Homo sapiens: one gene and its partner. The protein of the gene in region 2 binds, or shares a complex with, the protein of the main gene of each other region. Each region holds a gene or a part of one and is shown on either strand. Other genes may lie near its edges. The genes, in order: MCCC1 and MCCC2.

Region 1 (7,271 bases), on a different chromosome or scaffold from region 2:
AATAGATTGTTGGCTGGGGGTGGGGGACAGTTAAGAGTGGAGGTGGAGAGGCTACTTAGGAGGCTGCAGCATTTGGTCAAGCAAGAGGTGATAGTGGGGCTGGGCATGGTGGCTTATGCCTATAATCCCTATAATCCCAGCGCTTTGGGACAACATAGTGAGACATCATCTCTACAAAAAATTTTAAAAATTAGCCGGCTATGGTAGCAAGTGCCTGTAGTCCCAGCTACTCAGGAGGCTGAGGTAGGAGGATTGCTTGAGCCTGGGGGGTTGAGGCTGCAGTGAGCTGTGACTGTGCCACTGCACTCCAGCCTAGCTGACAGAGTGAGACCCTGGCTCAAAAAAAAAGGTGACTGTGGCTTTGAGTTAAGTTATAGGTGGGAGGGGGTGGAAAGAAGTGGAAAGAAATGTTTGGGAAATACAATTAACAGTACTTGGTCATTTACTAGATGAGGGGGGAAGGATCTAGAGTAGGAAAGAAGAGAGAAAAATGCTCAAAGACTTCTAGATCTCTGACATTATTGTTTTTATTAGCAATGGTGTTGTACTCTACGGGGTTAGGGAATTCTGTAAGAAATGCAGGTTCAGTATAGGTGAAAGGTCATGAGTTCAATTTCAGTCACACTAGTTTGGTACCTGTGACAATATTGAAGTGGAGATGTTGAATGGGCAGTTGGATATATATGTATCATGCTCAAAAGAAAGTCTGGACTAAAAATAGAAATTTGGGAGTTTTTCTCAAAGCTATAGGAGTATATAAAATGATCCAGAATGAGAGTGCACACTGAGAAAAGAGGGCCAAGGACCAAGTCCCAAGAAACTTCAACATAAGGGTCTGGTAGATGGGTAGGGTCTGGTAGATGGGTAGGGTCCAGATAAAGGACACTGAGAGAAGACAAGAAGGCAAGAGGCTGAGAATGCCATGAGAAGAATTTATTTCTAAAAGAAGGGAGCAGTGTACTAGGATGCTAAATGCTGCTGAGGGGTCAAGTCAGCTCAGCCCTGGAGACTCCACTGGATTTAGGGACATGGATAGTATCAGTCTAGTAGAGAGTGGTTGAAGACCCATCATTGAAAAATAGAAGATCCTTTTCTTTTTGACACAGGAATGTCTCATTTTGCTTTATGTTTTATTAATACTGTTAACTGACAAATCATAATTGTATGCATTTATGGGGTACAATGTGATGTTTTGCCACATGCACACAATGTGGAATGATTGAATCAAGCCAATTAACCTAGGCATCATCTCACTTACCTAATATTTTTTCATGGTAAGACATTTAAAATTTACTCTCTTATTTTGGGAAAATTCTTTTTTTTTTTTTCTTTGAGACAGAGTTTCGCTCTTGTTGCCCAGGCTGGAGTGCAATGGCACGATCTCAGCTCACTGCAACCTCCGCCTCCCGGGTTCAAGCGATTCTCCTGCCTCAGCCTCCCGAGTAGCTGGGATTACAGGCATGTGACACCACGCCCAGCTAATTTTGTATTTTTAATAGAGACGGGATTTCTCCATGTTGGTCAGGCTGGTCTCGAACCCTGACCTCAGGTGATTCATCTGCCTCGGCTTCCCAAAGTGCTGGAATTACAGGTGTGAGCCACTGCGCCCAGCCGGGAAAATTCTTAAAAAGACAAGAAGAGAAGGGATCCAGAGCACTGACCTTCGATGGGAAAGATGGATGCAGACATAACTAAGTCAGCAGATTCTGTGGCAGGAACCTCAATTTTATTTTCTCTGTGAAATCAAGATCATCCTGCTGCAAAAAGGTGGGTAGAGGGAGAATTGGAGGTTGGAATGAAGCGAAACAAGTTTGAAATACTCATTGCACAGAGTGAGAAAAACAGTGGCTAGAGAGCCACAAGGGCCTGCTGTACAGTGATAAAAGCCCAGGTGAGGCTGCTCATCATGAATTGATGCTAGTGCTTGGAGTCTTACTGCAGGCATAATGAAGTCCAACAGTGGGAGTCACCTATGCTTGGAGTTATTTCTGGTGGATAAAAGCTAGTGATAGGCTGGGCGCAGTGGCTCACGCCTGTAATCCCAGCACTTTGGGAGGCCAAGGTGGGTGGATCACTTGAGGCCAGGAGTTCGAGACCATTTTGGCCAACATGGTGAAATCCTGTCTCTACTAAAAATACAAAAAAGTAGCCAGGCGTGGTGGTGTGTGTCTGTAATCCAGCTACTCAGGAGGCTGAGGCATGAGAATCACTTGAACCTGGAAGGTGGAGGTTGCAGTGAGCCAAGAACACGCCACTACACTCCAGCCTGGGCAACAGAGTGAGACTCTTGTCAAAAACAAAAACAAAACAAAACAAAACAAAACAAAAAAAACTAGTAATAACTCACCCGTAACATTCACAAACTTCAGGGAGTTGGGTCTTATTAGTTATAATTTTACAGATGAAGCAAGGCTCAGAAACATGAAGTGACTTGGCTAAGATCACTCAGCCAGTAAGTAGCAGGTGCTAAGAATAGAGCCTGGATTGGCTAGGCACGGTGGCTCACGCCTGTTTGGCACTTTGGGAGGCCAAGGTGGGCGGATCACGAGGTCAGCAGATTGAGACCATCCTGGCTAACACGGTGAAAACCTGTCTCTACTAAAAATACAAAAAATTAGCCGGTCGTGGTGGAGGGCACCTATAGTTCCAGCTACTCTAGACGTCGAGGCAGGAGAATCGAGGCAGGAGAATCGCTTGAACCTGAGAGGCGGAGCTTGCAGTGAGTCGGGATTGTGCCACTGCTCTCCAGCCTGGGCAACAGAGCGAGACTCAATCTCAAAAAAAAAAGAAAAAAAAAGAATAGAGCCTGGATCTTTCTCCTTGTATATACGGAATCTGGACATGAGCTACTCAAAGTGTAGTCAGTGGATCCGCAACATTCTGTGAACCGTTTTAACCAATCCTCAAGGAGATAAAGACCTTGCCTGTAAATCAACTGTTCTACTAAGCACACCGCTTAGTTCAACTGATGTTATATCTGAAAAATGTTCCCAAGAATTAGCAGTGAGCAGTTTGAACTTACCTACTTCAACCCTGATAACACTAGCAAATATCAACTGTCATCATAAAGAACGAAAATACTGACACAGTAAACGAATAAACGTAAGACGTGGCTTCCAATTTTTAACACATACCATATCTACATGCATGGAATTTCTGTCAGCCTCACTATAAACCGCCACAGTCTGTACACCCAGTTTTTTGGCTGTGCGCATCACCCTGCAGGCAATTTCTCCTCTGTTTGCAATGAGGACCTTGGTAATGTTTCTTCCTGTTTAAAACACCATGAAAATCACACAGAAATGTTACTGGAGAGCAAAGAATGAGAATGAGAATACGATCTTAACTGGCTGATAAGGACTCGACTGATAAGTTCAAGGTTTTTGGTAAAACTAGCATAACTGAGCCCAAAATGACCACTTTAACTAATATTAGACAGTGCACTTCTTTTCTCTTAAATTCAAGGTACTCATTAACATAAATTACTCAGCTTTTTAAACTTAAAATACAAAGCAACATAAAATAAAATTAAAAGATGCTTTGTTATGCCAAGGATCAAATTATAATAGTGTTAAATTATCATCATTAATAACTACTCTTTTATGTATTTATTTATTTACTTATTTATTTATTTTTGAGACAGTGTTTTGCTCTCGTCCCCCAGGTTGGAGTGCAATGGTGTGATCTCGGCTCACTACAACCTCTACCTCCCAGGGTCAAGCAATTCTACTGCTTCAGCCTCCTGAGTAGCTGAAATTACAGGTGCCTGCCACCACGCCTGGCTAATTTTTGTATTTTTAGTAGAGACGGGGTTTCACCACATTGGCCAGGCTGGTCTCGAACTCCTGACCTCAGGTGATCCACCTGCCTTGGCCTCCCGAAGTGCTGGGATTACAGGTGTGAGCCACCACACCCGGCCAATACTAACTAATCTTTAATAAGCACTTTCTGTGCCTCAGGTCCTGTGCTAAAGACTCAACATCGACTTAAATTTTCACAATAATCCTAATGAAATAGATACTATCATTGTTATCTCAATTTTAAAGATGAAGAAACTAATGCTGAAAGAGCTATTATTTTCCCAAAATTACACAGCTAAAGAAACAATCTGGGACTTCAACCTAGATCTGCGTCACTCCAGAATTTAAGCTTTCAGTCACTCTGCTCCTCTGCCTCTATCCCTATGTACATAGGTGTGTGTGGTTCTCTTGCAACACAAGTGACTCTTGTACCAGTCTACTGGCATGGCACCATAATGACAAGCTACTGCATATATAAAATGTACTTCTAATATCACACGTGAAATAAATGTTCTTTGACAGTTCATAATAAAGTTATTTCTTCAATAGAATCCATAGGCTCAACATAATAAAGTTATTTCTCCTTTTAAAAAAAAAAAGGTTGCACCTAATTTAAAAGTGTTTTTCGATGGGGCTCTATGGAGCCCAAGAGTTGTCACAGGGGCTGATGGATGACATATGTATGAGTGTGGGCAGGGGAAGGAGAGCACAGTAGGTAGAGGGCTATATCCAATCAGCTAGAAGTTATACTTTATTACACTTTTATATGTTTCATAGTTGGGAATTCCATGTTAAATTTTATTTGGAAAAAAAGGTTTTGCTACTTAAAATAGCTTTTTCAAAGAACTGCTTTAGACCATCGTAGTTATGATTTTCCAATCCAATACACTAAGAGGGTCAAATGGACAGAAAGAACAAACGAATATAAAATGTTCTCCATTATTGCCCTCTGTATTTTATTTATTTATTTTTACTTTTTTTTTTTTTTTTTTGAGACGAAGTCTTGCTCTGTCGCCCAGGCTGGAGTGCAGTGGCGAGATCTTGGCTCATTGCAACCTGCGCCTCCTGGGTTCAAGCAATTCTCCTGCCTCAGCCTCCCAAGCATCTGGGATTACAGGCACCCGCCACCACGCCCAGCTAATTTTTGTATTTTTTAGTAGACACAGGGTTTTGCCATGTTGTCCAGGCTGGTCTCGAACTCCTGACCTCAGGTGATCCACCCACCTCAGCCTCCCAAAGTGCTGGGATACAGGCATGAGCCACTGCGCCCGGCTGCCCTCTGTATTTTAGACTTAACAGCAAGAGAGATTTGATACAAAAGAGGTGAAAACCATGACTTAACACTTCCTAGAAAATTATCGTGAAAATCCAAAATTTATGATAACTAATTCTATTATGCATATATTAAGGGATTAAACATTTCCCTTTCTTAAACACTTCCAGTCTGAAGCAAAATCAAATAGAACAACAAAGTCTGTCAGTACCTGTGGCTGTTGTGTACTTCATGGTTCTTTGCCTCCACACCCATGTCCTATAACATAAATCCAAAAGGAATTACAATTAAACAGAATAGGCAACACAATTGTTCTTTCAAAAGAATTTCAGTTTCTTAAAACATGAAACCTTAAGCCAACTAACAGTGCTTTAGTAAGACTTTCTTAGTGGGTAGAAAACTAATCTAGAACTCAAGAGTTAGAGTTCTGGCTGTTTTCCCTCGTACTACCTGTCCTTGAATGAGTCACCTAGCCTGCTTGTTCCTGAGGCTGGCATAAGACCACAGTCAGAGATGATTAAACAACCAAGGTATACCAACATCATCTAGTTTAGCTTTTTTGAAACCTTTTTGGCTACAACTCACAATACAAACTACCCAGGACACACACTTAATGAAAACAGATGTTTTGTTAAAAATGACTCATTCTGCCCTGGCCAGGCACGGTGGCTCACACCTGTAATCCCAGCACTTTGGGAAGCCGAGGCAAGCAGATCATGAGGTCAGGAGATTGAGGCCATCCTGGCTAACACGGTGAAACCCTGTCTCTACTGAAAACACAAAAAATTAGCCGGGCGTCATGGCGGGCACCTGTAGTCCCAGCTACTCGGGAGGCTGAGGCAGGAGAATGGCGTGAACCCAGGAGGCAGAGCTTGCAGTGAGCCGAGACTGGGCCACTGCACTCCAGCCTGGGTGACAGAGCGAGACTCCGTCTCAAAAAAAAAAACAAAAACAAAAAGAACAAAACTCTTTTGGTTCTTTCAGTTGTATCCTATTTTATTAAAATATGCTGGTCAATCTACAGTTTGAAAAATACCAATCAAGTTTAAACATGAGACATGTTTAAAAAGTAAGACCAGAGAAATAAACGGAAGTTAAACAGGGGCAACAGAAAGAATGTTGGCTGTGGGACCAGAAAAGCTGCATTCTCATCCGAGTCCCTCCAATGACCAGCTTGCCCAGGGTCGAGTCACTTTACATCAGTGTTTCTCCAACTTTTTTTTCATTATTACTCTCCTAATGAGAAAACTTTTAAAAGATTTTATTCCTTGTAGGAAGGGTGGGGTAAGGTTGAGCTTTGGAAAGCCGTAAACCATGACAAAATCTAAGATTTCCTGGCTCTCCTAAGAATCAATTTCCACCCTTTAGCGGTGGTATCATCCCAGTTGAGGATGCAAGATTTAATAGCTTGGGCTTCAGTGTTCTCACACACGAGATGAGACTATAAGAGGTGATCTTGAAGGTACCTCTCAGATTTAAAAGTACTATACAATTCTATTCCAAGTCCTTGTATTTAAAAAAATGGAGAAATGGGGAGACAAAATGACTTGAGGTATTTTAATGAGGTAGAAGTCTCAACAATTTTTAAGTTTCGTGATACCTGTGTATAAAATAAAGTAACCAAGAGCTGACAGAAAACAGGCCAGATTCACTTTAGGAACAAAAAAGTATAACGTCTATTAAGTTTCAGCTAAAGAGGATAAGTGGGCTGGGTGCAGTGGCTCACGCCTGTAATCCTAGCAATTTGAGAGGCTGAGGTGGGGGGATTACCTGAGGTCAGGAGTTCGAGACCAGCCTGGCCAACATGGTGAAACCCCATCTCTACTAACAATACAAAAATTAGCCAGGTGTGGTGGTGCGCACCTGTAATCTCAGCTACTTGGGAGGCTGAGGCAGGAGTATCACTTGAACTTGGGAGGTGGAGGTTGCAGTGAGCCAAGATCGTGCCACTACATTCCAGCCTGGGTGACAGAGTGAGACTCCATCTCAAAAAAAAAAATAAATAAATAAATAAAAAGCATATGCAGGGAAACAAACAAATTACAGAAGCAATTCCACCTATCTTTTTGTCTATACCTGGAAGATGTGGTTATAAAGGACTAACTAACCATTTTAGATTATTCACAAAGCACAAGATAAAAGCACAGCGTGTGCATTAGAAACTATGTAACTAGGCAGTAGTATATACATATTATGTA
Region 2 (7,709 bases):
AGCTGACATTTGCCTCTACAGACTGGGCAACATCTGTGCCAAGCTCAGCCCATCAGACTTAAATCACAGAAGAGCCAGTACTGGCTACAGTTCACCTCCCAGGCAATCCTTTATCAACCAACCTAGCCTCCTTAGGATGAGACTCACTAACCAAGAGGCAGTGTAGTTTAGTGGCAAAACCAAGTTCAACTTTCAGTTTCCCTACTTACTGATACTGCATTTGGCAAATCTTGATCTCTCAGGACGCCAGGTGTTTGTGTTTGTGTGTGTGTGTGTGTGTGTTTTAATCACCTGCGAAACAACATTCTACAACCTAGTAATTTTCTTGTGAAGCTGAGCAACCACAGAGGTTAGTGCCTGACAGTCATAATGAATTGGAGCTGAGCCACTGACAAGTTTCCCACCCCATCTTTTCAACCATAGAACCCACCTAGGTAGAGCTGGGTGAGTGAGAAGCATTATAGAGCAACAGTTAAGACCCTGGACTCAAGAGTTATGAGCCAGACCACCTGGCTTCAAATTCAGGCTCTGTGTTATCTCAGACAAATTTCTTGGACCCTATATACCACAGTTTTCCCATCTATAAAACAGAAATAACAATTGTACCTACTGCACAGGATCATTATGATAAATACATGAGTAAAACCACATAAAGCCTTTAGAAAAATGGTGGGTACACTATAAAATTCCTGCCATTATTATTACTTATTATAGTTGCTTTTATTTGTAATCAGGAAACACAGCTAAACTGGATCATTCATCCCATTCTCCCCCACCCTCATGGACTTGCTTTGTCTAATGTGAGCACACATTAATTTCATCACATGCCAGCAAGGATTTTAAATCCAATTTGTGTTCAGCCTCTTGCTCCTGTGCCTTCGGCCATGAGAAGGGCATGTTTAATTCAGGGCTGCTCTTCAGCCTCAGTCCAGGAATGGGAAGACACATGGAGCAGACCTGAACCTACCCTGCAGTGGAACAGTCACAGCAGCAGCTAACCAAAGGCCACCAACACGAGTGAGAGATTAAGAAACAAAACAAAATCAAGTGAGAGACTAATATTTACTGTTGTGAGTTACTGAGATTTTTTGATTATTTGTTACACAAAGCGCAACCTAGCAAAAGGTGATTCATACAAAACCCATCACCAAAGCCTTCTTTGTATTAATGGCAGTTCCACCTAACTAAATATTCTGCCCAGTTGGAAACTCCAAAGTCATCCATTTTCCCCTTCCACTCAGTTATTAACTCTATAATCTTTGCTCCTCAGGTATTTATGCCCCCCTCCTACATACAACTCTAACTTTGACTCCTTCATCTCAAGACTCAACTCTCCACTGTCACCTAGGTCTAGTCTTTTCCCTATATCAATCCATCCTCCACATTGCCACCACACTGATGATTCTACCATATCCATAGGATCATGCCACTTATCTACTTAAATATTTTAATGGACAACCTGCCAAATGGAATCTAAATGTGGCTTTTGCATGGAAGATCCTCCTCTATCTGGCCCCATAATCAATCAATCCCATCACCAGACACTATTCAATGAATTCCATGTCCTAGACATGGAATTCAAGTCCTCACACCAGATATACACTTTCATAACTCAGTACCTATGTTCTTGTAACTCTCTTGGTTTATACAGTCTTACCTTCCATCCTGCACCCTGAACTTGGCCAGCTCTTACCCAAGATTCATCTCACCCATTACTTCCTATCGGTAGCTTTCTGTAACCACCTTCTCAAGCTTTAGACAACCCTTCTTACACTGTACCACAGTTACCTGCTTTCTTGTCCATCTTCCCTACAAAATTATTAGTTCCATTCCTACGCATCCATGCCAAATATCTAAAATAGTGCCTAGACCACAATAACCACTTAATAATTCTGAATTAAACATTCTGGACTGACAAACAATTGTGTGTTGTTTGCACTATTTAGATGTTATCTGTATAGGCTTAGAAATCGTGGGAACACAGTGAAATTTTCCAGCTCTGATATTTCGCAAGTTTTGAGTTTTTTGGCCTTATGATGCCTCCTAATTCCAAGAAAAGCCACTCAAAGATACTGTGGGATATTTTCTATTAACATAACCAACTTTTTTTTTTTTTTTTTTTTGAGACAGAGTTCGCTCTTGTTGCCAAGGCTGGAGTGCAATGGCACGATCTCAGCTCACTGCAACCTCCGCCTCCCAAGTTCAAGCGATTCCCCTGCCTCAGCCTCCCAGGTAGCTGGGATTACAGGCGCGCGCCACCATGCCCGGCTAATTTTTGTATTCTTAGTAGAGATGGGGTTTCACCACGTTGGCCAGGCTGTTCTCGAACTCCTGATCTCAGGTAATCCACCCGCCAGGGCCTCCCAAAGCGCTGGGATTACAGGCGTGAGCCACTGGGCTCGGCCATCATAATCAACTTTTAAACTCAAATTTCCTAAGCACAGCGCCCCTCGTTGGGCTGCTCTAGGCCAGTGGTTCCCAAAGCTGGCTGCCAAAAGTCCCCTAATGAGTTCACTAACAATATAAACACAGCGACTCCACCTGAGACCCACAAGGTCCAGAGTAGGGCTCAGGCAGCTATTCAGCTAGCTCCCCAGGTGGCAATTCTAAACCAGGCTTTAAGAACCACTGATTTCAAAGACACAAAGTACAGTGCCAGCTCTAAAAGTGAACTAAACTTTCTTGTATCTGTTAGGCTTTTCTTCTTCAAACTTCACGTGCGTCACAGAATCAACTGGGGCTCCGGACAAGAGAGCAGCAGTTGTTGAAGCGTGCCCCTCCTCCACTTGCTTCCTAGCCTGGCACCGGCGGCCAGGCCACCGGGGCGCTCAGCCTACCTGGTAGAGGGCAGAGCCCAAGTCCGGCTGGGTGCCCAGCGAGGCCACCGAGTCCCCGTGATAGGCGCGCGGCCCGGCGGGAGAGGCGCGGGCACACGGCCGCAGGGCTAACCTCAGGACGGCCCACATGGCGGCGGGCACCGAGCGAGAGAGCGGCCCACGCTGGCCTGGAGCCGGTGCTTTCCCCTGCCGCTTCCCTGGCTGGGGCGGAAGCTGAGCTCAGGTCCTTGCAGCCCCAGAGAAGGTTTCTCTGATTCTCAGGCCTGTCCACACACGTGCCTAAGCGCGCCGCCCGCGATTGGTCAAGCCGCGCCACGCCCCCTGACCCAGCCAATAAGGGACAGAGCCTCAGCCCCGCGAGGTCGCGTCTAGTCCCGAGCGCAGGAGAGCAGGTCTCCCCGGCGGATCGACCCTCACGAAGCGGTGCGGCAGTGAGAGAGCTGCGGTTGGGCTTGGATTGGTGTTGTGTTGACACAGCGATAGATAATATCACGATAGTGACTGTACCTAAGGCAGGAGAATAAGTCTGGAAGCAGGGAACCTAAGGCTGTCTCACGCTGACTTCCTAGAGCTAAACTGAAAGGAAAACCCTAACTTTCCATGCCTAAGTAACAAAAGGACCAAAGGCTACTCCCTTTGCAAACCCCCCCACCTTTTCCGCAGGGCAGATAGGAAATTGGCTGTCCCCGACAAATCAGACTTACTGCTGGTGGAGGCTTGCTTTGCCAAGTTTGAACCTTAACTCCAGCCTCTGAATGGTTGCTGTCCACAACCAATCAGACTGATTGGGGGTCCAGTCTTCGTTTGCATAGAAGTATAACTTTGTAATTTCACCCTAGCCTCTGACTGCTTGCTTCTTGCAACCAATCGGGTTTGAGGTGAGCATAAAATGGCCAATAGGAAACTTCTAGTGGGTATTTGGACCCAAGAAGATTCTATATCCGGGCCCTTGAGCTCTGCTCGGTCCGCTCCCACATTGTGGAGTGCACTTTCGTTTTCGGTAAATCCCTGCTTTCGTTCTTTCGTTGCCTTGTTCTTTCTTTGCTTTGCTGGGCGTTTTGTCCAATTCTTTGTTCACAATGCCAAGAACCTGGACAACTTGCAGTCACAACCCCCAGTGACACACCAACAACATGAGTGAATCGCATCTAACACGTGCTTGCGAACAGCACAACAAGCCTGTTGTCCTTTCACTGGAGACCTTAAACATTCTTCTGATTATTTTCGCTATGTAGTTATTTTTATTTTTTACTTTATTTCATTTTTTGAGACAGGGCCTCACTCTGTCGCCCAGGCTGCAATGCAGTGGCACGATCACAGCTCGCTGAATCCTTGACCTCCCACCTCAGCCTTTCCAGTAGCTGAGACTACAGGTTTGTGCCACCAAGCCCGGCTAATTTTTTATTTTTGTAGGGGTTTCACCATGTTGGCTATGCTGGTCTTGAACTCCTGGACTCAAGCGATCTGCCCGCCACAGCCTCCCAAAGTGCTGGGATTACAGACATGAGCCACCACACCAGGCACTATGTAGTGACAGATTGTGGACATCAGCACTGTGGTCTTAAATAAAGGACTCCAAATATACCCATAAAAATTAAAACATTCTATACAAAATGCCTTGAACTTAAGGTTTTTCATTCACATATTTATTGAGCACTTACTACTTCTACTCCATTGGTTGCTTAGTGGGGCAGAGTAAAGGGGGAGGATGGGGTAGAGAAAGGGTGCGTCTACACCTGGAGGTAAACTTAGGTTCAGACTTCAAGGTACTTATAAGAAAATAATACAAATGGCCACATGATTTCTTACTGAACTGTGTAGGACAGACATTAAAGGAACAGAATGCAATTGGGAAAGGGTTGCAGCTGAGCCTTGCAGAAGCGTTGAGAGTGGACTGAGCAATGAACATGGCCAGGCTTTGTGCAAATGGAGGAGAGCATGAGCTAAACTGCAAAGGTATGATTTACACTGTGCTTGCCTCCCATGGTCAACAGAAAAAAAGGCCAGTAAAAACTGACTTTTCATATGTATCAGGGTATCAGAAGAGAGGGTTTGATATTTTAATTGCCACACTTTATTTTTCTCTAAATAGTTCTTCAATGATGCAAAGTACTTAAAATCACCACCCGAAGACAGAAAAGACACAATAGGATATGATTCCTTGCTTTCTTTAAAAGTCATACCTGTTTTGGCCGGGTGCAGTGGCTCATGCCTATCATCCTAGCACTTTGGAAGGCCAAGGCAGGTGGATTATCTGAGGTCAGAAGTTTGAGAGCAGCCTGGCCAACATGGTGGAACCTCATCTCTACTAAGAATACAAAAATTAGCCAGGCATAGTATCACGTGCCTGTAATCCCAGCTACCTGGGAGGCTGAGGCAGGAGAATCGCTGGAACCCGAGAGGCAGAGTCTGCAGTGAGCCGACATGGCACCACTGCACTCCAGCCTGGGTGACAGAGCAAGACTCTGTCTCAAAAAAAAAAAAAAAAAAAGTCATACATGTTTCTTATTTCTTGTAACTTTTGTTACAAGAAGCTCTTTGGAAATGTATAATGTTCCCAGAACAGCTAAGTAGAAAAATGCAAAAGGTGAAGTGCAAATGCACAGAAGGCCAAAAGCAGTCACCTAGCATCTGTTAGTGTCCAGTGTCTCTCTACCCCACTATTGAGATTACAAGGAACATAATCTTTGCCATCTCTGATTTTTTAAAATAATGTTTTATTGAGGCCAGGAACTTGAAACTAGCCTAGGCAACATAGTGAGCCCATGTCTCTGAAAAATAAAAATAGCCATGCACAGTGGCATGTGCTTGTAGTCCTAGCTACTTGGAGGGTGAGGTGAGAGAATCACTTGAGTCCAGGAGTTTGAGGCTGCAGTGGGCCATGATCTTGCCAAGCACTTCAGCCTGAGTGACAAGAGCTAGACCCTGTCTCTAAAAAAAACAATAAAAATAAAATAAAAATAAAGTAAAATAATGTTTTTATTTTATTTATTTATTTATTTATTTTTCTGAGAGGGAGTCTCGCTCTGTCGCCCAGGCTGGAGTGCAGTGGCACGATCTCGGCTCACTGCAAGCTCCGCCTCCCGGGTTCATGCCATTCTCCTGCCTCAGCCTCCCGAGTAGCTGGGACTACAGGTGCCCGCCACCACACCTGGCTAATTTTTCATATTTTTAGTAGAAACCGGGTTTCACCGTGTTAGCCAGGATGGTCTCGATCTCCTGACCTCGTGATCCACCCACCTCGGCCTCCCAAAGTGCTGGGATTACAGGCGTGAGCCACCGCGCCTGGCCAAAATAATGTTTTATATAATAAAAATAAGAGAATTAATTGAAAAATGTAACCGCCAGGGCTGATCTCTGCAGCCTGGTGCGCTGCCTTTCATCTCACCCTCAGTTCCTTCCCATGCATTGCTCATTCCCATTGGCTGCCATCTTCCACTTGCTCTCCTTCCTTTATCCGCACCGTTCCCTCTGCCCAGGGCATCTTTCCACGACCAGACTTGTCCGTTCCATCTTCTCCACCTGGTGAGCCCATACACATCCTTTAGGACTTGGCTCAGGAATCTCCTACTCCAGAAGCCCTCCCTGACCCCACCTCATTACCTCTTTCTCCCTTCAACAGGCCTCTATTGTGGCTCGGGTCAGCACTTGTTGTTAGGGCTCATTTAGTTTCTCCAACTTGGGGTCTTGTCAGTGTCATCATTTATGGCCTATGCTGGGCATATTACAGACGCTAAATTTGTTGAATGAATACATAAAAAATAACTGCTCTGGAATCAGAGCAAGGAGACATTCCAGGACACCTAAGGGAGGGTTATTTAAAGGCCAGGCAAGAAGCTGGGAGGTCAGGATGAGCAGTTAGACCTGGCAGGCTCTCCTTTGCTATCAAGTCTCTTCTGTAGAAACTTAATGACCTTACCTGGGATATCACATGGTATTACTTTGGTTGTACTCTATTGGATTCAAGGGGAGGGGACATAGACCCCACCACTCAATGGAAGGAGTGTCAAGGCCACTGGCAGAAAAGATGAGAGACATTGTGTGACTATCTTTGGAAAACATGACTGACATGCCAGCACATGCACTCATGTTTATACATTTATCCCAATCCAACCTTATATTTGTTTTCCTTGGCGTAACAATCCATTTCCATATTCCCTAACTCTTGCCAATACACACTGGCAAGAAACTATCTCTTTCTGGGCCACGTTCAGTACTTTTTGGTTTGCACTGGAATAACTAACTTCTGTTAAGATCCAGAGGCAAGGAGGCAGGGTAGGATCAGTCCCTTACAAGAACTAGCATCAGCTCATAAGGCAACTGCCCCAGATGAAGCGACTAAGTGCCTTTTACACAGGGAAAGGCTGGTCAGGAATGGGGAGTGGATATGAGGGTAGGTTGCCTCCACTCTGAGAAAAGCTCAAGGGGATTTGGGCATTTGAGAGTCTGGGTCTTGACCACATCTGCCCAAATGTGTCCATCCTATTTCTCAGCTTTCCATTCCTTCCTGTGTAGTGTCCTTATATCATACTGTACCTTTCATTGACCCTTCAACTCCCTTCTTGTCAAATCCTGGCTTGATTCTCGGCCAAACTGCCCTGCATCTACAGAAGATAATAGACTCCAAGCTGTGATAAAGGCTTTTTTACTTTTCACTATTATAAGAATCTACTCAAGGTAAATAAAATTACGTGTGCATACAAAAACTTGAACAAAAATATTTATAACAGCTTTATTTGTAATACACAAAATCTCTAAACAACCCAAATGTCCATTAACAGATGAATGAATAAGCAAATTATGGTAAATCCATATGACACAATACTGCCTGCAATAAAAATGATGTAGGGCACGGTAGCTCACACCTACAAT

What was found.
Region 1: the proteins of MCCC2 (region 2) and MCCC1 are in contact, whole or in part, in a cryo-EM structure (PDB 8JXM), measured with the Homo sapiens proteins. Residues at the interface, in NP_071415.1 of Homo sapiens: Leu56, His57, Val60, Glu61, Lys64, Asp88, Ile91, Pro93, Gly94, Ser95, Pro96, Phe97, Leu98, Glu99, Gln102, Ile123, Gly124, Arg125, Gly128, Glu130, Arg234, Trp276, Leu278, His281, His282, His285, Lys298, Lys299, Leu300, Ile304; in NP_064551.3 of Homo sapiens: Glu519, Phe526, His531, Asp532, Phe534, Ser535, Pro536, Phe537, Ser538, Ser539, Ser540, Ser541, Gly542, Arg543, Arg544, Leu545, Asn546, Ile547, Tyr549, Thr550, Arg551, Tyr568, Tyr636, Leu637, Ser641, Glu644.

The regions. Positions count from the first base shown.
Region 1 is NC_000003.12:183,089,275-183,096,545, forward strand, and holds part of MCCC1 (methylcrotonoyl-CoA carboxylase subunit alpha, mitochondrial isoform 1 precursor), read right to left. Parts: intron 5,335-7,271; exon of another isoform or gene 5,332-5,334; coding exon 5,285-5,331; intron 3,272-5,284; coding exon 3,135-3,271; intron 1,684-3,134; exon of another isoform or gene 1,662-1,683; intron 1-1,661.
Region 2 is NC_000005.10:71,582,683-71,590,391, reverse strand, and holds the start of MCCC2 (methylcrotonoyl-CoA carboxylase beta chain, mitochondrial isoform 1 precursor), read right to left. Parts: upstream 3,053-7,709; 5' UTR 2,967-3,052; coding exon 2,838-2,966; intron 1-2,837. UniProt on the Homo sapiens protein: Carboxyltransferase subunit of the 3-methylcrotonyl-CoA carboxylase, an enzyme that catalyzes the conversion of 3-methylcrotonyl-CoA to 3-methylglutaconyl-CoA, a critical step for leucine and isovaleric acid catabolism.